Linked DNA regions of Homo sapiens. The protein of the gene in region 1 interacts with the protein of each later gene in a pairwise test. Each region holds a gene or a part of one and is shown in the gene's direction. Other genes may lie near its edges.

What was found.
Region 2: the proteins of BTRC (region 1) and JPH3 interact in binary tests that used the Homo sapiens proteins (3 or more experiments, as listed by UniProt).
Region 3: the proteins of BTRC (region 1) and NFE2 interact in binary tests that used the Homo sapiens proteins (3 or more experiments, as listed by UniProt).
Region 4: the proteins of BTRC (region 1) and AXIN2 interact in binary tests that used the Homo sapiens proteins (3 or more experiments, as listed by UniProt).
Region 5: the proteins of BTRC (region 1) and NHSL2 interact in binary tests that used the Homo sapiens proteins (3 or more experiments, as listed by UniProt).
Region 6: the proteins of BTRC (region 1) and TACC1 interact in binary tests that used the Homo sapiens proteins (3 or more experiments, as listed by UniProt).
Region 7: the proteins of BTRC (region 1) and TRIM36 interact in binary tests that used the Homo sapiens proteins (3 or more experiments, as listed by UniProt).

What each region holds. Positions count from the first base shown.
Region 1 is NC_000010.11:101,535,665-101,539,164, forward strand, and holds part of BTRC (F-box/WD repeat-containing protein 1A), read left to right. Parts: intron 1-878; coding exon 879-989; intron 990-2,628; coding exon 2,629-2,707; intron 2,708-3,500. UniProt on the Homo sapiens protein: Substrate recognition component of a SCF (SKP1-CUL1-F-box protein) E3 ubiquitin-protein ligase complex which mediates the ubiquitination and subsequent proteasomal degradation of target proteins. Recognizes and binds to phosphorylated target proteins.
Region 2 is NC_000016.10:87,682,508-87,686,007, forward strand, and holds part of JPH3 (junctophilin-3), read left to right. Parts: intron 1-1,634; coding exon 1,635-1,759; intron 1,760-3,500. UniProt on the Homo sapiens protein: Junctophilins contribute to the formation of junctional membrane complexes (JMCs) which link the plasma membrane with the endoplasmic or sarcoplasmic reticulum in excitable cells.
Region 3 is NC_000012.12:54,291,611-54,294,813, reverse strand, and holds the end of NFE2 (transcription factor NF-E2 45 kDa subunit), read left to right. Parts: exon of another isoform or gene 1-64; intron 65-1,432; coding exon 1,433-2,440; 3' UTR 2,441-2,703; downstream 2,704-3,203. UniProt on the Homo sapiens protein: Component of the NF-E2 complex essential for regulating erythroid and megakaryocytic maturation and differentiation. Binds to the hypersensitive site 2 (HS2) of the beta-globin control region (LCR).
Region 4 is NC_000017.11:65,534,149-65,537,648, reverse strand, and holds part of AXIN2 (axin-2), read left to right. Parts: coding exon 1-325; intron 326-585; coding exon 586-780; intron 781-1,095; coding exon 1,096-1,329; intron 1,330-1,927; coding exon 1,928-2,023; intron 2,024-3,500. UniProt on the Homo sapiens protein: Inhibitor of the Wnt signaling pathway. Down-regulates beta-catenin. Probably facilitate the phosphorylation of beta-catenin and APC by GSK3B.
Region 5 is NC_000023.11:72,137,845-72,141,344, forward strand, and holds part of NHSL2 (NHS-like protein 2), read left to right. Parts: intron 1-596; coding exon 597-2,927; coding exon of another isoform or gene 2,928-2,932; exon of another isoform or gene 2,933-3,500.
Region 6 is NC_000008.11:38,846,236-38,849,735, forward strand, and holds part of TACC1 (transforming acidic coiled-coil-containing protein 1), read left to right. Parts: intron 1-463; coding exon 464-584; intron 585-1,719; coding exon 1,720-1,788; 3' UTR 1,789-3,500. UniProt on the Homo sapiens protein: Involved in transcription regulation induced by nuclear receptors, including in T3 thyroid hormone and all-trans retinoic acid pathways. Might promote the nuclear localization of the receptors.
Region 7 is NC_000005.10:115,159,909-115,163,408, reverse strand, and holds part of TRIM36 (E3 ubiquitin-protein ligase TRIM36), read left to right. Parts: intron 1-3,500. UniProt on the Homo sapiens protein: E3 ubiquitin-protein ligase which mediates ubiquitination and subsequent proteasomal degradation of target proteins. Involved in chromosome segregation and cell cycle regulation. May play a role in the acrosome reaction and fertilization.

The sequences.
Region 1 (3,500 bases):
TTAAATTTCTCCTGTCTACCGTTGAAAAGTGCTAATAAACAGCTAACAGCCTTTTCTTTGCCATTGTTTTTAAGAAATGAAAAGAAAGATTTGTTTCCTTACTAGAAATTATGTAATTTTTGTCTTAGCATTACATAATTGGCCAGAGAGTTACCTGTCTTTGAAATTATGAAGATTTCACAGTTGGAAGTCCTTTTTGGGGTTTTCCCTTCACAAAGATGAATGACATAGATATGATTATAATTTGGAAGATTTATCCATCCTCTCCCTTCAGTGAAGTATTAAAAGGATGAAAAGGCCATTAAAAAAGAGCTACTGTTTGTTATATCTAAGGAAATTATTCCTAGAAATCACTTGAATTGCTCTGAAAACGTACAGTTTTTATAATTAGTACACAAAAGTTCTTGAGAACTGACTTTGCATTTCTATTCTCTGAGAAGAGCTGTCCTGGACAGTGGTGAAAGAAGTGTCTGCCGTGGCAGAGGGGGAGGTGCTTTGTGAGAACAGGACATCACTGATAATCTGTATCTCTTTCAGTTTGGTGACTTCAGGAAACTGCTTTCTTAGCTTGGTCATTTCCTTCTCAGGCAACTGCGTGCATTGAATTCGTTTTTATGCCTGGAAGAACCTGTTTACAGAATTATGTAAAGCCCTGTGCTTTGAAAATACATTTTACATTTGAACTTAAACCTACATATTTCTGTGTGAGTTATATAGCAGAAAGGAAATAAATTACATTGAAAGCAGTACATATCTGTGTGGGTGGTGATTGATTTTATTTTATGAATTTTTAGAAGGCATATGAGGTGTATTGTTATAACATTCCAGGCTTAGAAAAGAATACGTGAAAATTCACCTGACTTAATTTTCTCTTCCAGATTATGGGACATAGAATGTGGTGCATGTTTACGAGTGTTAGAAGGCCATGAGGAATTGGTGCGTTGTATTCGATTTGATAACAAGAGGATAGTCAGTGGGGCCTATGATGGGTGAGTGTGCTAACAGAGTGTAAAAAAGAGAAAATCTACGTCTTAATCCTTCCTTATGTTTATGGTGTTAAACATAACCATTCCTTGTTTCTAAAAGCTTATAGATTTTACACAAAATATCTGATACCATATTTCTTTAATCCGTGTATTTACCTCTCCTTGGTTTAGTGTCCTGAAATATTCTTCCCATTCATTTTATTATACTTGTTTGCACATGGTTGTCATTCATATTTTGGTTATTTGGTTATGTATTTGACTGTTTTGCCCTGTAAAGCAAAGAACAAGAAAAACCCAGTGTTAACAGGCTACCCATGTAAAAGGGTAACCTGTTAACAAAACAGAAACACTAGAGGGCAGTATTTGGGGACTTAGTGTGGTAAGATCTTGAATTTTGATTTCTTGGGTTTTTTATCTCTTTGAGTAATTTTTAAGAGTACAGTTCTCTTGTCATCACTTGTCATCCTAGCATTTCATTTATGAGTTTAGTCATCTTTATTTTCTTCTAATTTCTAGTGGTTATGGAATCCATTAATTTTGTGAATGGACCCCATGTCCACCAATCCTAAACACAGAGTAAATTCAAACAAAAGTAGTCTGGGCACAATGGCTCATGCATTTAATCCCAGCACTTTGGGAGACCGAGACAGGTGGATCATTTGAGGTCAGTAGTTCGAGACCAGCCTGGCCAACATGGCAAAACCCAGTCTCTACTAAAAGTACAAAAATTAGCCAGGTGTGGTTGCGGGCGCCTGTAATCCCAGCTACTTAGGAGGCTGAGGCAGGAGAATTGCTTGAACCAGGGAGGCAGAGGTTGCAGTGAGCCAAGATTGCGCCACCACACTCCAGCCTGGGCAACAGAGCGAGACTCCGTCTCAAAAAAAGAAAAAAAAATAGTTATTCACTTAGGAAGAACTCTTATCATTTCTTTTTGTCAATCTGCCTGATTTTGGCAGCTTTTTAAATATCAGAAACTAACAACATTATTTTAGTTCATGAGTTAACTACACTGATACATTCATTAGCCAATGCAAGCAGCAGGAAGTGTAGACTGCTCACTTCTTCTGCTTTGGGACAGCCATCACTGTTACAACCTTGGGAAATTGTTCAGAGTGTGGTGACATGTTCCAGCTTGGTCAAGACAATATTTTCTTATTGTCCTGGCTTTGATCTGTACCCACCTGTCTTGGAATTTGTCTGCTATGTACCTTGAGGAAACATGGCCTATTAAAAGATTTTTGGAAGAGCTACACTTATCTTATTTAAATCAAAAGATGAGGGCTTGCTTATATAAACTCCATTGCTCTTACATGGACCCCAGTCCCTCAGTACATGTGACCTGGGCCACTCTTAGAAGTGCCCAGGAAGAGGATGCTTCACAGTTGTAGATTTCTAGGTCTGTGTAATATCATTAAAAGGTCTAATGTACAAGATCTCCTCTTGATCCCAAAGTATGGTATAACTTTACTGTTAACTGTCTTCAGTTTGGTTAAAGCTAGCCTGTTTCTCATTTGTAGGTTAATCACGTACATTTGAACTATACTCACCATCCATATTTATTGCCATGAATTTCTGCTATTCTTCCCTGCCTTCTCTTACATTTGCTTTTAACTAACATTTTTGTCCCCTTTTTGATCTTTAGAAAAATTAAAGTGTGGGATCTTGTGGCTGCTTTGGACCCCCGTGCTCCTGCAGGGACACTCTGTCTACGGACCCTTGTGGTAAGAGCCTTGCTGTTTAGAGAGCATTGGAGAGCAGGTGGGGGAAGAAATTAAACGTTGATGTGCTGTGGAATATGGATTTGAATTTAATAGTTACAACCTCACAAAACCTACAACTAAGTGGTAAGGCAACCAGTACATGACAATAAAATATGTTTATATAATTCCTTTCATCCAAAAATGCTTTAGAGACTATATATGGAGAGAAATGTGGCAGCTGTTTAACAGCTGCACAGCAACTCTACACAACAGTTTAGTGCAGGGAGTGAATAAGAATTCTGTATCCACCAGAAACAGCAGGGGGTACTAAGGGAGAGAGAATATAATTATTCAAATTGGAACCTGTCCAAAATCTGAGGACCTGTACACCTGTGCCTTCAAAAAGTGCCCTGGGGGCCGGGTGCGGTGGCTCATGCCTATTATCCCAGCACTTTGGGAGGTCAAGGCAGATGGATCACCTGAGATCAGGAGTTCAAGACCAGCTTGACCAACACGGTGAAACCCCATCTCTGCTAAAAATAAAAAAAAAATTAGCCAAGCATGGTGGCAGGTGCCTGTAATCCTAGCTACTCAGGAGGCTGAGGCAGGAGAATCACTTGAACCTGAGAGGCGGAGGTTGCAGTGAACCAAGATCATGCTTGCACTCCAGCCTGGGCAACAAGAGCGAAACTCTGTCTTAAAAAAAAAAAAAAACTGCCCTGGGAATCTGCATGAATCCCCCTGGTCAACCCCTTAGTTCTGCAGCCTATTCATGAGGTAGTGCCTCCAGCAACTTGAGCCCATCTTTTTTGTT
Region 2 (3,500 bases), on another chromosome or scaffold:
AGAGAGCACCCTCGCTTCTTCTACCATGTGAGCACCCAGCAGGAAGGTGCTGTCCAGGACCCAGAAAGTGGGTCCTCTGCAGACACCAAATCTGCTGGCACCTTGATCTTGGACTTCCAGCCTCCGGAACTGGGGGAAAGCAATGTCTGCTATTGATGAGCCGCCCAAGCTGCGGTGCTTTGTTGCAGCCCCAACAGGCTAAGTCAGGAACCGTGAACAGGAGACCTCCCAGGGAGTCTGCTCGGAGGGGGGATTTGTCGTGGGGGAATTGGTCATTGTGCCTCAGTTTCCCCATTGTTGGGGAAGTGGTGCCCATGGCCACTGGCAGGCCCCCCCGGGGGCCAGCACACCAGGTAGGAAGAAATGCAAGCCCCAGGCTGCTGAGATGCACAGAGCCCCACATTCTGCCTTCGGGACGTCTGTCTAGTCCCTTGTCTTACAAAGGGTGGGCAGGTCCCCTGCAGGACTCAGCAGAGGGAGAGACACAGTCAGGGAGCGGCCAGAGGGGTGACGTGCCCGGCTGCCCACAGGTACAATGGCTCCTTCGTGTCACACATGGGTGTCGGCGTCATCTTTCGGCTGGGTGAGGGAACTGCCCAGCTGCCCAAGCCCTGGGTTCCCAAGTCAGAGTTGCTGGGATTACTGGGCAGGGAGGTGGTCCCGCAACCCACACCGGGGCAGTGGCAGGAAGCACAGACACACACAGCACAGCGGGCCGGCACCGCCGGGGTGGGTTGTCTGGGCTTGGACTCTTTCTGTGCACATGCTGATGTTTGTTGATAATAAGAACAGAAACATTTTCTTTTTTTTTTTTTGAGATGGAGTCTTGCTCTGTCACCCAGGCTGGAGTGCAATGGCGTGATCTCCGCTCACTGCAACTTCCGCCTCCCAGGTTCAAGCAATTCTCCTTCCTCAGCCTCCTGAGTAGCTGGGATTACAGGCACGTGCCACAACACCCGGCTAATTTTTGTAATTTTTAGTAGAGACGGAGTTTCACCATGTTGTGCAGGCTGGTCTTGAACTCCTGACCTCATGATCTGCCCGCCTCAGCCTCCCAAAGTGCTGGGATTACAGGCGTGAGCCACTGTGCCCAGCCCCTCCCCTTTTTTTTTTCCTTGAGACAGAGTCTTGCTCTATTACCCAAGCTGGAGTGCAGTGACGCGATCTCAGCTCACTGCAACCTCCACCTCCCAGATTCAAGCAATCCTCCTGCCTCAGTGTCCCGAGTAGCTGGGACCACAGATGCGTGCCATCACACCCAGCTAATTTTGTATTTTTGGCAGAGACAGGCTTTTGCCATGTTGCCCAGGCTGGTCGTGAACGCCTGAGCTCAAGCGATCTTCCTGCCTTGGCCTCCCAAAGTGCTGGGATTACAGGCGTGAGCCACCATGCCCTGCCCAGAGGTGTTTTCAAGCATGTCCTGTGCACTGGGCCTGGTTGGTTGATGCTCAGTGATGTTTATTGAATGAATGAATGAATGAACGAACAAGATCCAGAAGTCTGAGGGTAAACATGGGGTGCCAGCATCTTGTCTTAGCCCAGCCCGTTGTTGGGGGGTTGGCAGAGTACCTCAACCCAGACCCCTGTCACCTGTGCCCCCTGCCCCCCCTCACGCTCCTCCCTGTCTCCCCCAGGACCTCCCACTCTCGGGCAAAGGCCGAGGCAGCCCTCACAGCAGCTCAGAAAGCCCAGGAGGAGGCGCGGATCGCCAGGATCACTGCCAAAGAGTTCTCCCCTTCCTTCCAGCACCGGGAAAACGGTGAGTCTCGCCGGGCCTGATACTGGCATCGTGGGGAGGGGGTGCGTGGATGGCTGGGCAGTCCTGGCAGCAGATGTGTCCTCCAGAGCGGGTAGGCTTAGATGGGCTCAGCCCCAGCTGCTCCCCTGCCCGGTGTCTTCCTCTCCCGCCGAAGGTGCTTGTTTGTGCCAAGGCCTGGCCTGGCTCCCCGGGACACAGGACATGTGTCTTGGCAGGTCTCTCCCATTCCCACAGTCCTTGGGGCACCGCGTGTTGCTTGCCGGCTGTCCCTGACGGTGAATTCCCACCTGCCCAGCCTGTGCTGTCTGCTGCCCGCCCTCCCCCAGTGTTGTTCTAGAACCTTCTGGGATGATGGAACTATCTGCTGGGTCCAGCGTGGCAGCCATTAGCTGGGTGTGTCTGCGGTCCTGGCTCTTGACCTGCCTCTGATGTGAACTAACTTACCATTAAACACACCCAGTGGCTGCTGGGTTGGACAGCGTCACAAATGGCAGCTCCCGCTGTGCCCCTCGGAAAGAGCTGGAAGCTGCTGCCTGATTTAGGAACCTCGTCCTCCCTTCGAGGGGGGGATCATGGGTGATACGGCCCAGTGACAGTGGCGGGGGCGTGGAGGGTGTGGGGTGGGTGGCGGAGAGGCCGTGGCCAGCTGCCTCCCATCTCCTACCTCATCTTGGAGGAAGCTTCCTCTGCACCAGGAGGCCCCAGAGAATGGGGTTAGGAGCGCGCCCCCTCAACCCGAGCTCTGACCGGTGAGCGGTATTCGGATGAGGCTCTGCGCGCTGGAGGTCCGCACCTGACACCACAGCCCTGAACTTGCTCGCAACGCCTGCCACTCTGGCCACCAGGACAGGATGAGGAGCCCAGCCTGGGGGCTGCGGGGCTGGGCGCTCCCCTGACTGGAACGCGAGACCACATCATCTCTAGAGGTGACCGTCCGCCACCACTCCAAGACCTTGCCTTCACTGGGCGAGTGCCGGGCCCTGCAGAGCCTGCAGCTGCAGCCTGGAGGTCAGGAGGACGAGCCCCCGCACCCCCACCGCCTTGGGCAGCTTCTATTCCACTGCGTCCCCTCCACTCTCCTGGCCCCTCCAGACACACGCACCCCAAAGTGTCCAAGTGGGAGGGCAATGGGCCACGTGCCCCTGTGGCCATTGGCATCCTCCATGGTCTCGCCCTCAGGCCCTGAGTTTCCTTCTCCCTGGGGCCCCTCCTTGCCTCGCCCACGACCAGCTGCCTGGGCTGGGAGGCGGTGGGGCGCACACTTGGGGGCACACGTGTAGCGTGCACGTGCATGTGGGGAGTGGGTGCAGTGCTGCGGGATGGACGAACGGAACAGGGATGCTGGAGAGGAAGCCAGTGCCGTCGGGGGCACCTGCCAGAACCCTGGCTGGGCCACTCCACGCAGAATGCACGTAGGACGGCATGGGATTCCACGTACCAACCCTGGCCCATGGTCGCCTCAGCTCCAGCCCTGCCTGCGACTCACATTCCACTGCCTGCGGCCTGTTTTGTTTCCTCTCAGAGCCTCAGTTCCATGTGTGAAAGGAAGGGGACCAGACAGGGAACATTGAAGCCTCCATCCTGTGCCAAATCCCCCAAGAGACGCATCCACCGGAAGCTCCCAACGTGACTTATTTGGGAGGAGGGTCTGTGCAGGTGTCATTATGGAACAGACTTTGAGACAAGATCAGCCTGGATTGGGGTGAGTCCTAGATCCACGCGGCGTCCTTAGAAGAGACAG
Region 3 (3,203 bases), on another chromosome or scaffold:
ATCCTGCCATCTTCTTCCCTCATTACCTCCGCCTGCCCTTGGCAACTGGGCCCGTTTACCCCAGGTAACAGAGCAGTAGTTCAGGGGCCTCAGGAAGGGGAGTCGGACTATGCCAGGGTCCTCTCCTCCTGCTACTTGGACAAAGGGGTGTCTGTTGGCTTGACAATGATGCCTTTGTCCCCAGCTGGGCTGGAGCAGGGTGGCTCCCTGATGTAGGTTGGGGGCCTTGTTTCTAGCATGTTCTCTACTTCTCGCTGCACCTGGGCAGGGACAGAGGGACTGAAGAGGAGAAGGCAGAGCTTGTGCTGGCTCCCCAAGGTGCTTCTTAGCCCCCAGCCACCCCCCTTTTACTACCCTGCTACCATGCTTAGCACCCTCAGGATCTGCCCTAGGCCCTCTTCCCACACAGCGGCTCCCTCTGCTGGGCATCTGGGGCATGGCCAGGATCTGAACTTGACCCTTTGACCCTAGATAACTGCAGCAGGAAAGGGTTCTGAGGGGTCATCTTGGATAAAAAGGCTTTGACTTCCTGAAGGAAATAAAGGAACATGAGCCATTTCTTTTTTTTTTTTTTTTGAGACGGTGTCTCGCTCTGGCGCCCAGGCTGGAGTGCAGTGGTGCAATCTTGGTTCACATCATTCTCCTGCCTCAGCCTCCCAAGTAGCTGGGACTACAGGCGCCTGCCACCACCCCAGCTAATTTTTTGTATTTTTAGTAGACAGGGGGTTTCACCGTGTTAGCCAGGACGTTCTTGATCTGATCCTGTGATCCGCCCGCCTTGGCCTCCCAAAGTGCTGGGATTACAGGCCTGAGCCACCATGCCTGGCCGAACATGAGCCATTTCAACCCAGTAAGAGCTTCTCCAAGGAGAGTTCATAATTGTTCCAATGTTAGGTAGTCTTTTCTGCAGTCCAACCTCAGTGACTTCCATTCTTGCTAAAGCTGCATTTTTCATTTTTTCTTTTTTTGAGAGGGAGTCTTGCTCTGTCGCCCAGGCTGGATAGTGGCACTATCTTGGCTCACTTCAACCTCCACCTCCGGGGTTCAAGCAGTTCTCCTGCCTCAGCCTCCCAAGTAGCTGGGATTACAGGCATTCACCACCATGCCCAGCTAATTTTTGTATTTTTAGCAGAGATGGGGTTTCACCATGTTGTCCAGGCTGGTCTCGAACTCCTGACCTCAGGTGATCTGCCGCCTTGGCCTCCCATAGTGTTGGGATTATAGGTGTGAGCCACCATTCCTGGCTTTAAGCTGCATTTTTCTTGCAACAACTGTATCATAACTTTGCAGGAAGCTTCCCGTGATTTGTGGCAACTTTGTTTCCTTGTTACTACCTCACTGCGACTTTCAGAAGAATCCAGCTTGTTCCTGAGAGAGTGTTGGTTTCTCTTCCTTAGTCTGTCTCCAAATCTCTTTGTGTCTTTCCTTGCAGGGTCTGAATGCTCCAAGTGAGCCATCATTTGAGCCCCAAGCCCCAGCTCCATACCTTGGACCTCCACCACCCACAACTTACTGCCCCTGCTCAATCCACCCAGATTCTGGCTTCCCACTTCCTCCACCACCTTATGAGCTCCCAGCATCCACATCCCATGTCCCAGATCCCCCATACTCCTATGGCAACATGGCCATACCAGTCTCCAAGCCACTGAGCCTCTCAGGCCTGCTCAGTGAGCCGCTCCAAGACCCCTTAGCCCTCCTGGACATTGGGCTGCCAGCAGGGCCACCTAAGCCCCAAGAAGACCCAGAATCCGACTCAGGATTATCCCTCAACTATAGCGATGCTGAATCTCTTGAGCTGGAGGGGACAGAGGCTGGTCGGCGGCGCAGCGAATATGTAGAGATGTACCCAGTGGAGTACCCCTACTCACTCATGCCCAACTCCTTGGCCCACTCCAACTATACCTTGCCAGCTGCTGAGACCCCCTTGGCCTTAGAGCCCTCCTCAGGCCCTGTGCGGGCTAAGCCCACTGCACGGGGGGAGGCAGGGAGTCGGGATGAACGTCGGGCCTTGGCCATGAAGATTCCTTTTCCTACGGACAAGATTGTCAACTTGCCGGTAGATGACTTTAATGAGCTATTGGCAAGGTACCCGCTGACAGAGAGCCAGCTAGCGCTAGTCCGGGACATCCGACGACGGGGCAAAAACAAGGTGGCAGCCCAGAACTGCCGCAAGAGGAAGCTGGAAACCATTGTGCAGCTGGAGCGGGAGCTGGAGCGGCTGACCAATGAACGGGAGCGGCTTCTCAGGGCCCGCGGGGAGGCAGACCGGACCCTGGAGGTCATGCGCCAACAGCTGACAGAGCTGTACCGTGACATTTTCCAGCACCTTCGGGATGAATCAGGCAACAGCTACTCTCCTGAAGAGTACGCGCTGCAACAGGCTGCCGATGGGACCATCTTCCTTGTGCCCCGGGGGACCAAGATGGAGGCCACAGACTGAGCTGGCCCAGAGGGGTGGAACTGCTGATGGGATTTCCTTCATTCCCTTCTGATAAAGGTACTCCCCAACCCTGAGTCCCAGAAGGAGCTGAGTTCTCTAGACCAGAAGAGGATGACAATGGCAACAAGTGTTTGGAAGTTCCAAGGTGTGTTCAAAGAGGCTTGCCTTGAGGGAGGGCTGGAATCTGTCTTCCCTGACTCGGCTCCTCAGGTCTTTAGCCTCCACCTTGTCTAAGCTTTGGTCTATAAAGTGCGCTACAGAAATGGCTTTTCACTGTGTCTTCCTTCTTGAGGGAGGGTGGAAGCTGAGATAATTATCTGTTTGAATCTTACCAAGTTCACTTCATTCTCCCCAGAGCTCTGTATGAGAGGTACCATAAAATTTGGGCTTGAGGCTGAGCATGGTGGCTCACACCTGTAATCCCAGCACTTCGGGAGGCCGAGATGGGCAGATCACAAGGTCAGGAGTTCGAGACCAACCTGGCCAAAATGGTGAAACCCCATTTCTACTAAAAGTACAAAAATTAGCTGGGTGTGGTGGTGCACGCCTGTAATCCCAGTTCCTCAGGAGGCTGAGGCAGGAGAATCACTGGAATCCGGGAGGTAGAGGTTGCAGTGAGCTGAGATTGCGCCACTGCACTCTAGCCTGGGTGACAGAGCGAGACTCCATCTACAAAAAAAAAAAAAAAAATCTGGGCTTGAGCAGTATGGGGATCTACCACCTTCACCTCCTTTTCAGAGTCAGAGGCCATGGATGATCTGAA
Region 4 (3,500 bases), on another chromosome or scaffold:
GCTCCCGCTCCCCGGACCACCACCACCACCACCATTCGCAGTACCACTCCCTGCTCCCGCCCGGTGGCAAGCTGCCTCCCGCGGCCGCCTCGCCGGGCGCCTGCCCCCTCCTCGGGGGCAAAGGCTTTGTGACCAAGCAGACGACGAAGCATGTCCACCACCACTACATCCACCACCATGCCGTCCCCAAGACCAAGGAGGAGATCGAGGCGGAGGCCACGCAGCGGGTGCACTGCTTCTGCCCTGGGGGCAGCGAGTATTACTGCTACTCGAAATGCAAAAGCCACTCCAAGGCTCCGGAAACCATGCCCAGCGAGCAGTTTGGGTAAGTGCCGGGCGGACCGCAGTGTCCCGTGTGGGGCTTGTCTCCCAGCCAGGTCCATGGGCAGGTGTGAGGTGGGAGCCGCATTACAGGCATTTAGTTTCTAAGAGGGCGGCAGAGTGCACGGCCGGGTGAGGGTGCGGGGAGCAGGTGCATGGGTCTTTCGTGTCACCAGCCCCCCGACTTGCTGAATTGTCTGATTCTAGGAGTCCCGGAGATTTAACCGGGTCTCTGGGTTGGGTGTGGTTCTTGGTTCCCCACAGCGGCAGCAGAGGCAGTACCTTGCCCAAACGCAATGGGAAAGGCACGGAGCCGGGCCTGGCCCTGCCCGCCAGGGAAGGAGGGGCCCCCGGCGGAGCTGGGGCCCTGCAGCTTCCCCGGGAGGAAGGAGACAGGTCGCAGGATGTCTGGCAGTGGATGCTGGAGAGTGAGCGGCAGAGCAAGCCCAAGCCCCATAGGTAAACACCGCTTGCCGCCGCCGCGGCCGCGAGGGTCATGGGCACTCAGTACGGAGGTATTGTGGGAATGGCTGTTTTTGCAGTCCGCGGAATACAAATGTGACTATTTGCTCCTGCCATCTTAATATTAAACGTTGGACTGAGCAGACCACAAAAATGTCATGTTTTGGCACTGACCCCTGTTCATGTTATGGTAGTTTTTTTTTTAACTCTCTCTCTGAGCAGAATAGACAAGTTTCTATTGAAGTCACATTTTCCAGTTCTTCTAACCCAGTTTCTTTCCTTCTGTTTTCTCTCTGCTCATTCCTTGTTTAGTGCCCAAAGCACAAAAAAGGCCTACCCCTTGGAGTCTGCCCGCTCGTCTCCAGGCGAACGAGCCAGCCGGCACCATCTGTGGGGGGGCAACAGCGGGCACCCCCGCACCACCCCCCGTGCCCACCTGTTCACCCAGGACCCTGCGATGCCTCCCCTGACCCCACCCAACACGCTGGCTCAGCTGGAGGAGGCCTGTCGCAGGCTAGCTGAGGTGTCGAAGCCCCCAAAGCAGCGGTGAGTGGAAGTGAAGGGTCCTAGGTTGAGGCAGGGATTGGGTTTGGGTGGAGACCTGGTCTGTGGCTAATGGGGAGGGCCTCTCTTTCTGCCTGGGTCTCAAACCCTCCCATGAGAAGAAGAATTACTTATGGATGAGTAAGCTGCTGCTTTCCAGCTTCTAGAAATTGTTCCCTTCAGTTATGTTCATTCTACTAGAGTTAAGCCAGGATCTGTGAGGCAAGTCATGCCTAGAATTGGGAGAATGAATTTCAGCAATTGCTTACAAATCCCATTCCTTACAAATGTCTTGATTGTTTAAGGCTGGTTAGTTGAGTATATAAGAAGCTGTGAGATGGAGGATCAAGAGTCCTCAGCCCTTTGCTGGGGCTGAGAATGTCCCATCCTGGGCTCCCAGGGGGGCTTAGAATGGCTGTTCCAAGACGTCTTCCTGGCCTCTTCAGCCACTGTTAACCCAGGGTCTTGGTTGGGTCTCCGTAAGGATGGAAGTCGGGTTCGTGTCTCTTCAGGAGGCCAAATAGTAATTTTCTGTCTGCTTTTCAATTGCTCTGGGGACAACAGTGTACCTCTAAATCCCTCGCCCTGGCTGTGTCCTCAGGTGCTGTGTGGCCAGTCAGCAGAGGGACAGGAATCATTCGGCCACTGTTCAGACGGGAGCCACACCCTTCTCCAATCCAAGCCTGGCTCCAGAAGAGTGAGTGTCTTTACCTGACATTACTGAGATCTGCCGAGTGCTTTATGTTTCAGAATATTCGCTATCTGGAGTTTCATTTTCATGAAACTTTTTTTGGTTTTTAAAATCACTTTGATTTTAGCGCTAGTGATGAGGAACAGTAAACGTAGATGTTGCCATCCATGTCCTGCCGACAAATGCATCATAGCAAAAGTTTTTCTGGTCATACACAAATCAAAAGCTGGGACATGAAGCCATTAGCAGAAGTGTAGAAGGGACCTCAAATTCAGCTGGAAAAGTTGCCCCCATTCAACTTGCAATTTAGTAGTACTGGAAACATTTGTCACCCCTGAGCAGAAAGATCATTCTCCACTGTGGCAGAGGTGGAGGGGACCATCCTTGTGTTTTTGTTTGGAGAAGACAGAATATCTTCCCCCAAATTGGGCAGTGATTCTTTTTGTAAATTTAGTCTCTTTCAAAGTAGGTTGAGGAGCCTGCTCGTTTAATTACTGGATGGTGCAATTAAAAAGAAATCTGCTAAAGAGATCTAAAATGGTCTGTATCAAGTTTTCTTTCTTAGTGTCTTCATCCTGAGCAATGAGCAATGTTTGAAGTCCTCAATAGGCCACTGCCCTGGACCCTTTCATTGTTTCAATTGGTTGACCCTAAGTGTACCAGCTCTCTGGGTCTGGGCCAGCCACTTTTTTTTTTCTTTTTGAGACAGAGTCTCGCCCTGTTGCCCAGGCTGGAGTGCAGTGGCTTAATCTTGGCCCACTGCAGCCTCCGCCTCCTGGGTTCAGGCAGTTCTCCTGCCTCAGCCTCCCGAGTAGCTGGGATTGCAGGCGCCCACCACCACACCCAGCTCCTTTTTTGTATTGTTAGTAGAGACAGGGTTTCGCCATGTTGGCCAAGCTGGTCTCAAACTCCTGACCTCAAGTGATCCGCCCACCTCGGCCTCCCAAAGTGCTGGGATTACAGGCGTGAGCCACCACGCCCGGCCTAGCAGCCTTTTTTTCAAGCCATTCTACAAAATCTCAGAAGAAATGGGGAAATGGACATGACTGTGTGATAACCCCCATTAGTTGTTCTCATTCTGCTGGAATAAGGGGTGGGCTTTAGGCATTCTGAGATCATGCCATCCCAAAGGTGTCCTGCTCTGGGTTTGTCTCTTTAGCACTCTCCAATCCAGGTGAGACCCGGCATCTCTGTGATAATTTCTCTTCTCTCATCTTCTTGAGGAAGCACCCCATTTATGCCAGCCTGAAAGAGGCCGCCGTATACTTTCATTTGGTGGCGGTGGGGGAAATGATACCAATTTGTACAACCAAAAGGAAATCATCCTTTTCTGCATGCTGCATGCAGCACATGTGGGGTTGGACTGTGTGTCCCCCAGAGCTGCCTGACTCTGGGATGTGGGGCTCTGCCCCAGCCCCCACTTTGGGTTTACAATTGCAGCCCTAGTGTTTGGATACCCTGTCACTTATGCACATGTGCGCAC
Region 5 (3,500 bases), on another chromosome or scaffold:
AATAATAATGACATGACAGTATTAATTGTTTGTGTGTATGAGAAAACCTTTGGGGATTTGGAACATCCAAACGGTTTCCTCACATCCGTAGATTATCCTCAGCCTCTTATGTTGCAAAGCCTAAAAGTGATGGGTGCGAACAATGCAACCAGACTCTTAGCTTTGCATCTTGGGCATGCTCCAGAGTCATTGCTGGAGCCAAACGTCACACCATGCCGTCCTTAGTTCGGAAGCCTCTACTCTCATCTCTAGATGGATGAATGCTGAGGTCTGTGATGGTTTCATGAGCCTGGGGTGAAAGTATGGGGAAAATGCAAGGTAATCCCACGTGACACTTCAGCTCTAAGAGGAATAATCAAAGCTGGAAAGTATTTGGCAGCCATCTGGACCATTCAAGGGCACCGTATGTCTCACTGTGGGGTGATGGGCAAGGACCCAATTTCCCCAGCATCTTCATCCATGGAAGGGAAGAACCAAGGAATTCTGACCAAGCTGTTGGCAAATGCTTCTTGGCAAAAAGTTGGTGCTCCTGTCTCAAAACAGCTGGTGGGAGATCCCTTGCTGTAGCACTCATGTCCTGTGTTTATTTCCTCCAGGTCACAGCAACAGCCCAGCAGGCAGTGTGGCCCACTCTACCACCTCCGACATCAGGCCCAGTCACTCAGTTCCAGAAGGGGTTCATGGAAGAGTTGCAGTTGGTCAGGATGCTCGGTTCCCAAGTCTCACCTCGCCAGTACTGAGAACTCCTTCCAGTGAGCCGGACGAACCTCACCAGGCACGGAGTGGCCCAAACCCTCCTGGCATGGAGAGCATGGGAATGGTGTACAGTGTCCCCAGTTCTTGCAATGGACCTACAGAATCAACCTTCTCCACTTCCTGGAAGGGAGATGCTTTTACCTACATGACTCCAAGTGCCACCAGCCAGAGCAATCAAGTCAATGAAAATGGGAAAAATCCTTCCTGTGGGAATTCTTGGGTCTCTCTAAACAAAGTCCCACCTCTGGTTCCTAAGGAGGCTGCTACCCTCCTTGTCGCTCGTGATAACCCAGCAGGATGCAGTGGGTCAGCTGGCTACCCTGAGCGCCTTATTCAGCAAAGGCACATGCCCGAAAGACCCTCCAAGATTGGCCTTCTGACCAGTGGGACCTCGAGGCTGGAGACAGGCCCCGGTGGGGCCAGCAGATTCCGGGAGCGGTCACTGTCTGTGCCCACAGACTCAGGCACCACAGATGTGGACTATGATGAGGAGCAGAAGGCCAATGAGGCCTGTGCCCTGCCTTTTGCCAGTACGAGCTCTGAGGGCAGTAACAGTGCTGACAACATTGCCTCCCTTAGTGCCCAGCAAGAGGCCCAGCACAGAAGGCAGAGGTCCAAGAGTATCTCACTTAGGAAGGCCAAAAAGAAGCCTTCCCCACCCACACGCAGTGTCTCACTGGTCAAAGATGAGCCAGGCCTCTTGCCTGAAGGTGGGTCAGCACTACCCAAGGACCAGAGGCCCAAGAGCCTTTGCCTCTCCTTGGAACATCAAGGACATCACTCGTCCCACCCAGATGCTCAGGGTCACCCAGCTATTCCAAACCACAAAGATCCAGAAAGTACACAATTCTCCCACCACTGGTATCTTACTGACTGGAAGTCTGGTGACACCTACCAATCCCTGTCCAGCTCCAGCACTGCCACTGGCACCACAGTCATTGAGTGCACCCAAGTTCAGGGCAGCTCAGAGTCTCTTGCCTCACCTTCCACCTCCAGAGCCACTACACCTTCCCAACTCTCCATTGAAGTGGAGGCCAGGGAGATATCATCCCCGGGAAGGCCCCCTGGACTGATGTCACCCTCCAGTGGCTACTCCAGCCAGTCGGAAACACCAACACCCACTGTTTCCATGTCCCTGACCCTGGGCCACTTACCCCCTCCAAGCAGCAGTGTCCGGGTACGTCCAGTGGTACCTGAGAGGAAGTCATCACTACCCCCGACGTCACCAATGGAGAAATTTCCCAAGTCACGGCTATCATTTGACCTACCACTGACCTCTTCACCCAACCTGGATCTGTCTGGGATGAGTATCTCCATCCGAAGCAAAACTAAGGTGAGTCGGCACCACTCAGAGACAAATTTTGGCGTCAAGCTGGCCCAGAAAACTAATCCCAACCAGCCAATCATGCCTATGGTTACTCAGTCCGACCTACGTTCTGTTCGCCTGAGGTCGGTCAGCAAGTCTGAGCCGGAAGATGATATTGAGAGCCCTGAGTATGCCGAGGAACCCAGAGCAGAAGAAGTCTTCACCTTGCCAGAGAGAAAGACAAAACCTCCCGTAGCTGAGAAGCCTCCGGTGGCCCGGAGGCCTCCAAGCTTGGTCCACAAGCCACCATCTGTTCCTGAGGAGTATGCACTAACTTCACCAACCTTGGCTATGCCCCCCAGGAGCTCAATTCAACATGCGAGACCACTCCCTCAAGACAGCTACACGGTAGTGCGGAAACCAAAGCCCTCCAGCTTCCCAGATGGCAGAAGCCCAGGGGAGTCAACAGCACCCTCATCTCTTGTTTTCACGCCTTTTGCCAGTTCCTCTGATGCTTTCTTCTCAGGAACACAGCAGCCTCCCCAGGGAAGTGTAGAGGACGAGGGCCCCAAGGTGAGGGTTCTGCCTGAAAGAATTAGCCTCCAGAGCCAGGAAGAAGCTGAGAAAAAGAAAGGCAAGATTCCACCTCCCGTACCAAAAAAACCCAGCGTGCTGTACCTGCCTCTCACTTCTCCCACAGCTCAAATGGAGGCCTATGTGGCAGAACCAAGGCTGCCTCTCAGCCCCATCATCACCCTGGAGGAAGACACCAAGTGTCCCGCCACCGGCGATGACCTGCAATCACTTGGTCAAAGGGTGACTTCAACTCCTCAGGCTGACAGTGAAAGGGAGGCAAGCCCTCTGGGTTAGTAAACTGTCTGCTGGCTTTTTCCTTCAGTCACAGGAGAGATGAGGGTGAGAATGGAGTGCCAGAGATGGAAGCAGATGCCCCAGAATAATTATCCTGATCCCAAGTCAGTAGCGGGCACCCTTTGAGGGTTTGAGTTACTCTAAATAGGAACCACGGGCTGGCCTTACTGCCCTTGAGATCAAGACTAGCCCGAGGCAGATCTCCAAGGCCCAGTTTAGGCCACTCTCCCCTCTAAATCTCTAGTGCTGAGATAATGAAATCAAACTAGGTTCTAGCACCCTAGGACTTCAGCATCCCACATCCCTAGCCAAGCATGCATCCTGTCTTGGGAACTACTCCACCTCACTGTACAGTACTTTTCATTGGCTGCAGTGAATTTAGTTCCCTACATGGGACCCAGTACCCCACCAGACTGAGTTCAAGTGCCATGGCAGGCTCGGAGCCATCTGAAACAACGGAATATGTTGCCACCAGCAGCCTCTTTTTGTGCCTTCCGGAGGAAAGGGAGCTCACTTTCTTGGGTGGTTTGAGTTCTTTGGCTCTTCCTGGAACCATAAACATAATACA
Region 6 (3,500 bases), on another chromosome or scaffold:
ACTGCGCCACTGTACTCCAGCCTGGGTGACAGAGCGAGACTCCATCTCAAAAAAAAAAAAAAAAAAAAAAAAAAAGAATGCCTTTCACATCTCATTAATAAACTCATTCCCTGTAGGCCCGTGTCTCACAGATGTCAGTGGTTAGTATCCCAACTCTAGCTGTGATCGTCTCCAAAATTATGCAGTCTGCTTTTGTACTGGTCTAAAAAAAAAAAAAAAATCTAAGACTGTTATAGAAACCATTTGCTAGTGAGATACAAATTTTGAAGTTGTCTGTAAATTGAATTTTTATAAATTAAAATGGAATTATTTAGGTCACCGATTTTTGTTTTTTTTCTCTCATGCAGTCAATTCTTTGAGGCCTGTGCCTCACAGATGTCAGTGGTTAGTATCCTGACTGGCTTTGACTAGTGGCTAATCATGTGCTTTTTGTCTCTTTATTACACCCAAACACCATAAACAGAGCCAATGAAGAGATTGCTCAGGTTCGAACAAAAGCAAAGGCTGAGAGTGCAGCTCTCCATGCTGGACTCCGCAAAGAGCAGATGAAGGTGGAGTCCCTGGAAAGGGCCCTGCAGCAGAAGGTACAGAAAGGGACCTGATCTGGGTGGCCACAGAGACGTTTGGTTTTCCTCCTCAGCAGTGACTCACTTAATGACAGATCTGGGTGAAAGAGGCCTTGGCTTTCTACTCAGACATTTCAGTCCAGCTCCTTTCTGAACTGATCCAGGTGGAAACAAACAAGTCAAACCATTAAATTTTCAAGCACATCATGTGGAAATCATCCACAGGCAGGGTGCAGAGAGGAAGTTGCATTTTAACTGAAGTTCAGAACAGCTTCCTAGTTGGGGTCATGAGACTGCCTTTCTTTCTTTCTTTGTTTTTTATGCAATATATTAATATGAAGCCATCTTCCCCCTTCATTGCTTTAGATCAGTGGTTTGCAGTTGGGGGCAGTTTTGCCCTCCAGGGGATGTTAGGTGTTAGGTAATGTCTGGAGATATATTTGTTTGGTTGTCACCACTGGGAGATGCTGCTGGTATCTAGTGCAGGAAGCCAGGGATGCTGTTAAACATCCTACAATGCACAGGACAGCCTCTGACAACACATTTACCCATCCTAAAACATCAGCAGGGCTGCTTTGAGAAACTGCTATAGATAAATGAAAACCAGGACTAGCAACAATCCCTGTTTCTCACTAAGCAATTTTTAGCTTTCCGTTTTTATATGTCTCCGGTGTATTTTCTTTACTGCATTTCCAATTATGTACTCATACCTGTGCCATCCATTCATCAAGAGCAGGAGTTTTTATCACAGGGTCTGTTAGCCCCTAGAACGGTGCTCCCTGGGAGATTCAGACTCCAGCATCCCTAGATATGCTAATGGATTGAGTGAGACCCAGATACTTATGTTTTTGACAAGTACCCCAGATAATTCCTCTGATAACAAGAAAATTGGGGAACTAAGAGATTCATGGACAAGTTTCAGAGGGCTGGTGACTGTCCTCACCCTTTACTCAATTTAAGCATGATTTTATGAGTACATTTTTTGAGGTGTGTAGCCTTTTTTTCTTTAAAGCATCTCTGATGTAGAAAAGTTAAAAATCACTGAATTAGGATGTCTAGGGTAGGGTAGATCCAGACTTGGGACTAGTTAACTCTATTTGCCTTTATTTCAGAATACAAAGTGGCCTGCATAATTATGTCATTTGTCTTTCAGAACCAAGAAATTGAAGAACTGACAAAAATCTGTGATGAGCTGATTGCAAAGCTGGGAAAGACTGACTGAGACACTCCCCCTGTTAGCTCAACAGATCTGCATTTGGCTGCTTCTCTTGTGACCACAATTATCTTGCCTTATCCAGGAATAATTGCCCCTTTGCAGAGAAAAAAAAAAACTTAAAAAAAGCACATGCCTACTGCTGCCTGTCCCGCTTTGCTGCCAATGCAACAGCCCTGGAAGAAACCCTAGAGGGTTGCATAGTCTAGAAAGGAGTGTGACCTGACAGTGCTGGAGCCTCCTAGTTTCCCCCTATGAAGGTTCCCTTAGGCTGCTGAGTTTGGGTTTGTGATTTATCTTTAGTTTGTTTTAAAGTCATCTTTACTTTCCCAAATGTGTTAAATTTGTAACTCCTCTTTGGGGTCTTCTCCACCACCTGTCTGATTTTTTTGTGATCTGTTTAATCTTTTAATTTTTTAGTATCAGTGGTTTTATTTAAGGAGACAGTTTGGCCTATTGTTACTTCCAATTTATAATCAAGAAGGGGCTCTGGATCCCCTTTTAAATTACACACACTCTCACACACATACATGTATGTTTATAGATGCTGCTGCTCTTTTCCCTGAAGCATAGTCAAGTAAGAACTGCTCTACAGAAGGACATATTTCCTTGGATGTGAGACCCTATTTTGAAATAGAGTCCTGACTCAGAACACCAACTTAAGAATTTGGGGGATTAAAGATGTGAAGACCACAGTCTTGGGTTTTCATATCTGGAGAAGACTATTTGCCATGACGTTTTGTTGCCCTGGTATTTGGACACTCCTCAGCTTTAATGGGTGTGGCCCCTTTAGGGTTAGTCCTCAGACTAATGATAGTGTCTGCTTTCTGCATGAACGGCAATATGGGACTCCCTCCAAGCTAGGGTTTGGCAAGTCTGCCCTAGAGTCATTTACTCTCCTCTGCCTCCATTTGTTAATACAGAATCAACATTTAGTCTTCATTATCTTTTTTTTTTTTTTTGAGACAGAGTTTCGATCTATTTTAAGTATGTGAAGAAAATCTACTTGTAAAAGGCTCAGATCTTAATTAAAAGGTAATTGTAGCACATTACCAATTATAAGGTGAAGAAATGTTTTTTTCCCAAGTGTGATGCATTGTTCTTCAGATGTTGAAAAGAAAGCAAAAAATACCTTCTAACTTAAGACAGAATTTTTAACAAAATGAGCAGTAAAAGTCACATGAACCACTCCAAAAATCAGTGCATTTTGCATATTTTTAAACAAAGACAGCTTGTTGAATACTGAGAAGAGGAGTGCAAGGAGAAGGTCTGTACTAACAAAGCCAAATTCCTCAAGCTCTTACTGGACTCAGTTCAGAGTGGTGGGCCATTAACCCCAACATGGAATTTTTCCATATAAATCTCAATGAATTCCCTTTCATTTGAATAGGCAAACCCAAATCCATGCAAGTGTTTTAAAGCACTGTCCTGTCTTAATCTTACATGCTGAAAGTCTTCATGGTGATATGCACTATATTCAGTATACGTATGTTTTCCTACTTCTCTTGTAAAACTGTTGCATGATCCAACTTCAGCAATGAATTGTGCCTAGTGGAGAACCTCTATAGATCTTAAAAAATGAATTATTCTTTAGCAGTGTATTACTCACATGGGTGCAATCTTTAGCCCCAGGGAGGTCAATAATGTCTTTTAAAGCCAGAAGTCACATTTTACCAATATGCATTTATCATAATTGGTGCTTAGGCTGTATATTCAAGCCT
Region 7 (3,500 bases), on another chromosome or scaffold:
CCAGGTGAATAAATTAAAACTGTAGTTATAAAGGGGCCTCCCCCACTGTTAAAATGTCAAAATGAACTCTCGTCTTTTGATACATACTTGAAGTAGATATTGGATATTGAACATGAACTTTGTGTTAAACTCCTTATTAACTGTGTTTGTAAGTCTGGGCACAGTGGCTCACACCTGTAATCCCAGCACTTTGGGAGGCCATGTCGGGTGGATCACCTGAGGTCATGAGTTCAAGACCAGCCTGACCAACATGGAGAAACTCCATCTCTACTAAAAATACAAAATGAGCTAGGTGTGGTGACGCGTGCCTGTAACCCCAGCTACCTGGGAGTCTGAGTCAGGAGAATTGCTTGAACCTGGGAGGCGGAGGTTGCAGTGAGCCGAGATCGCGCCATTGCACTCCAGCCTGGGCAACAAGAGTGAAACTCTGTCTCAAAAAAAAAAAAAAAGCTATGTTTGTCTTTAGGAATTATTCTGACTGTGCAATGTACTTGATACATAGAATAATGGACTACTGAAATACTAACTAGGAAAACATTCATATATGGTAATAGGAAAATAAATACTGCAGAGTTAAGGAGTGGGACTACCTAATGGCTAGTCATCACCTTTATGTTTCCTCCCTTGCTGCCAATCTGGCGCACTGAGGAGGGAAAGACAGCATCCCTTGAAATCAGTCCTACTAGATAAAACTTGATATTCTGCTGGTAGATCTTCATTGGCTAATTGGGAACCCATGCTTGATTGACCAAAGAAAACTTTTTGTATGTTAATATTTAGCAAAAACAAATAAAATTTTAGTTATGTACTAGATATTTCTACTTATAATTAGATTGCACTTATATACATATTTCACAAAATTCTGTAGGCTTTTAATGTTAAGATTTGGCTAGTTTTTTATGTGATTCATATGAAGAACAAGATGAATGATTTTCTGTTTTCAGGAATTTACCTGACATGGTACTCTGTAGATGCTTAATAAATATTTGTTGAATGGATGTTGAATGAGAAACCTCTGCCACAGGATTTGTACAGAGAGTGCCACAATGGCTTATATTCAGTAATAATGGCATTTGTCTTTTGGAATATGAGCTCCATTACACCATACATTTCACTGTCTAGATCCGAAATAGCATTACTGGGATGTTTCTCCCTCTTCTTTAGGAAGAACCCTACGAAGTTAGATTATGTCCTGAGAGGGGAAACTTAGAATGGTGGAGTTTGAAAACTTTTCTCTGTAAAGAACAGTTACAGGAGATGAGAAGGGGTGACTGCAGAATATGATAGTTTTCTTATGGATAGAATGAGTATGCTGGATATCTCTAGCAGAGGTTCCAGGTCAATGAGTAGATGGAATAGGAAGGCAGATTTAACTTAGCATGAAAGAAGACACACGCGCACACACACCCCACTAAGGCTGTCCAGAAATGAAATGGGCTAAGTATATCAGACTTCTGCCACTAAATGTGTTTACATCAGGTGTCAAATTTAGATGCTGCAGGGCCAAACGGGTGCATTAATGAAGAGAGCCCCAGGCATAATAAATATAGGACTCTCCTTCATTTTAGTTTTTCGCTGTAAATATGGAGACAATAAATATTTGATTTTCCCTTTAGCTCAACTACTGTAAGAAAACCATCAGCCCAAAGTGACAGCAGCCAACTGATTTTACGACTCCTTATTGGAGAAGTAGAGTGTGGTTTGGGACTGTGGAGACTGAAACGGATGCCTTGTTAAAGGGGGCAGTAACCACTTGGCAGTGTCAGGGTTGAAGATGCCAGATTGTCAGATTTATTGGTTTTTCACAAAAACTTGATAGTGGTTTCCATGTGAAATCTGTTTTTTAAATATTTTCAATTCAGATTATTTAACAATACCACACCAGCTCAATAGGGCAGGACAGCCAAAACATGTCTTTGGCTGTGACCCATGCAGCATTTGGGCCATCAGTATCTGAAGACTTTGTTTAAAACAATGGGTGGGTGGCCACTGTCTGCAATATTGTGGAGGGTGTTTCTGCTGTGGGTGGTAGGTTGGGCCAGTTGTTCTGTCACATGCCATATCTCCAGCACTGAAGTTCTATGCCTTATTAAATACCAGTGGCATTCATTCATTCATTCAACAAATATTTGAGCACCTGCTGGTTACCAGATATGGCTAAATGGTTAAGAACAATGAGCGAGATAGACCCACTTTCTTTTCTTTTTTTTTTTAAAGACACATACCCCTTAGCATTGTGCAAAGCTTTATAACAGCTGTAATTACTAGAGCATAGTCCTTTATCACGAACACACACAGATCAAGTTAACAAAGAGAGAGCACCCAAAGGGTGCGAATGCTGTAAGTATGGAAATCATTCCTGGAGGTTTTAATGCAAATTTTAGGATTGTCCTTCACCAGTTTTAAACTAGTAGAAGTCATTGCAGTGCAAATGTGATGTTACTTGCCATCTATTTATTGGGCATTTGCATATAATTCTTTTTTTGGTAGATTCATGAGTAATATTCCTTTTTTTCTGACAGCTTTCTTCTTAAGTTTTTATCCTTTAGACATTTATTTGAGACAGGGTCTCACTCTGTTTGTTACCTGGGCTGGAGTGCAATGGCTTGATCATAGCTCACTGTAACCTCTAACTCTGAGGCTCAAGTGATCCTCCTGCCTCAGCCTCCTACATACCGGAGACTAGAGGTGCATGCTACTCACTCGCACCCTGCTAATTAAAAAATTTTTTTTGTGGAGAAGAAGGTCTCACTTTGTTGCCTAGGCTGGTTTCAGACTCCTGGCTTCAAGCAGTCTTTGTGCCTTGGCCTTCCAAAGTGCTGGGATTACAGGCGTTATTCACTATACCCAGTCTAGTTTTGCCACTGGTCTAATAAAGGGATTAATTAAACCCGGATTGTCCAGTATGGTAGCCACTAGCCACATGTGGCTATTAAGTGGTTGAAATGTGGCTAGTCTGAATTGAGATATGCTGTGAGTTAAAATACACAGAATAAAAAAGACTGTGAAATGATCTTTAATAATTGTTATATTGTTTATATTTTGAAATCATAGTATTTTGGATATAGTGGGTTAAATAACATTAAAATTAATTTCAATTTTTTTAATATGGCTACTGGAAAATTTAAACTTACGTATATTGTAGTTTTGGCTCATACATTTCTTTTGGATTATTTTGCATTAGATTTTTGACAGTTTTTTTTAAAGGGTACCTTGAAAGGAGAGTAAGATTTGTGTGCATAACACAGTAGCATATTAAATTATGTACAAATAAAAGCCATATTACTGTATACTTTTGATCATAAAGTATACAGTAAGCTTTCCCCCCAGTTTGTATTTTCTGGTTGTCTAAACTGAATATGTTCATTTTAGTTTTTTTTTTTTCTTTTTTTTAACAGTTATTAGGTCAGTAAAAAGTCAAACAAAAGATGTTTGATTTCACTTTGTATTTGCAACATTTACCTTAAGTATGATTGTTTAAAAATACAAATCTATATAGA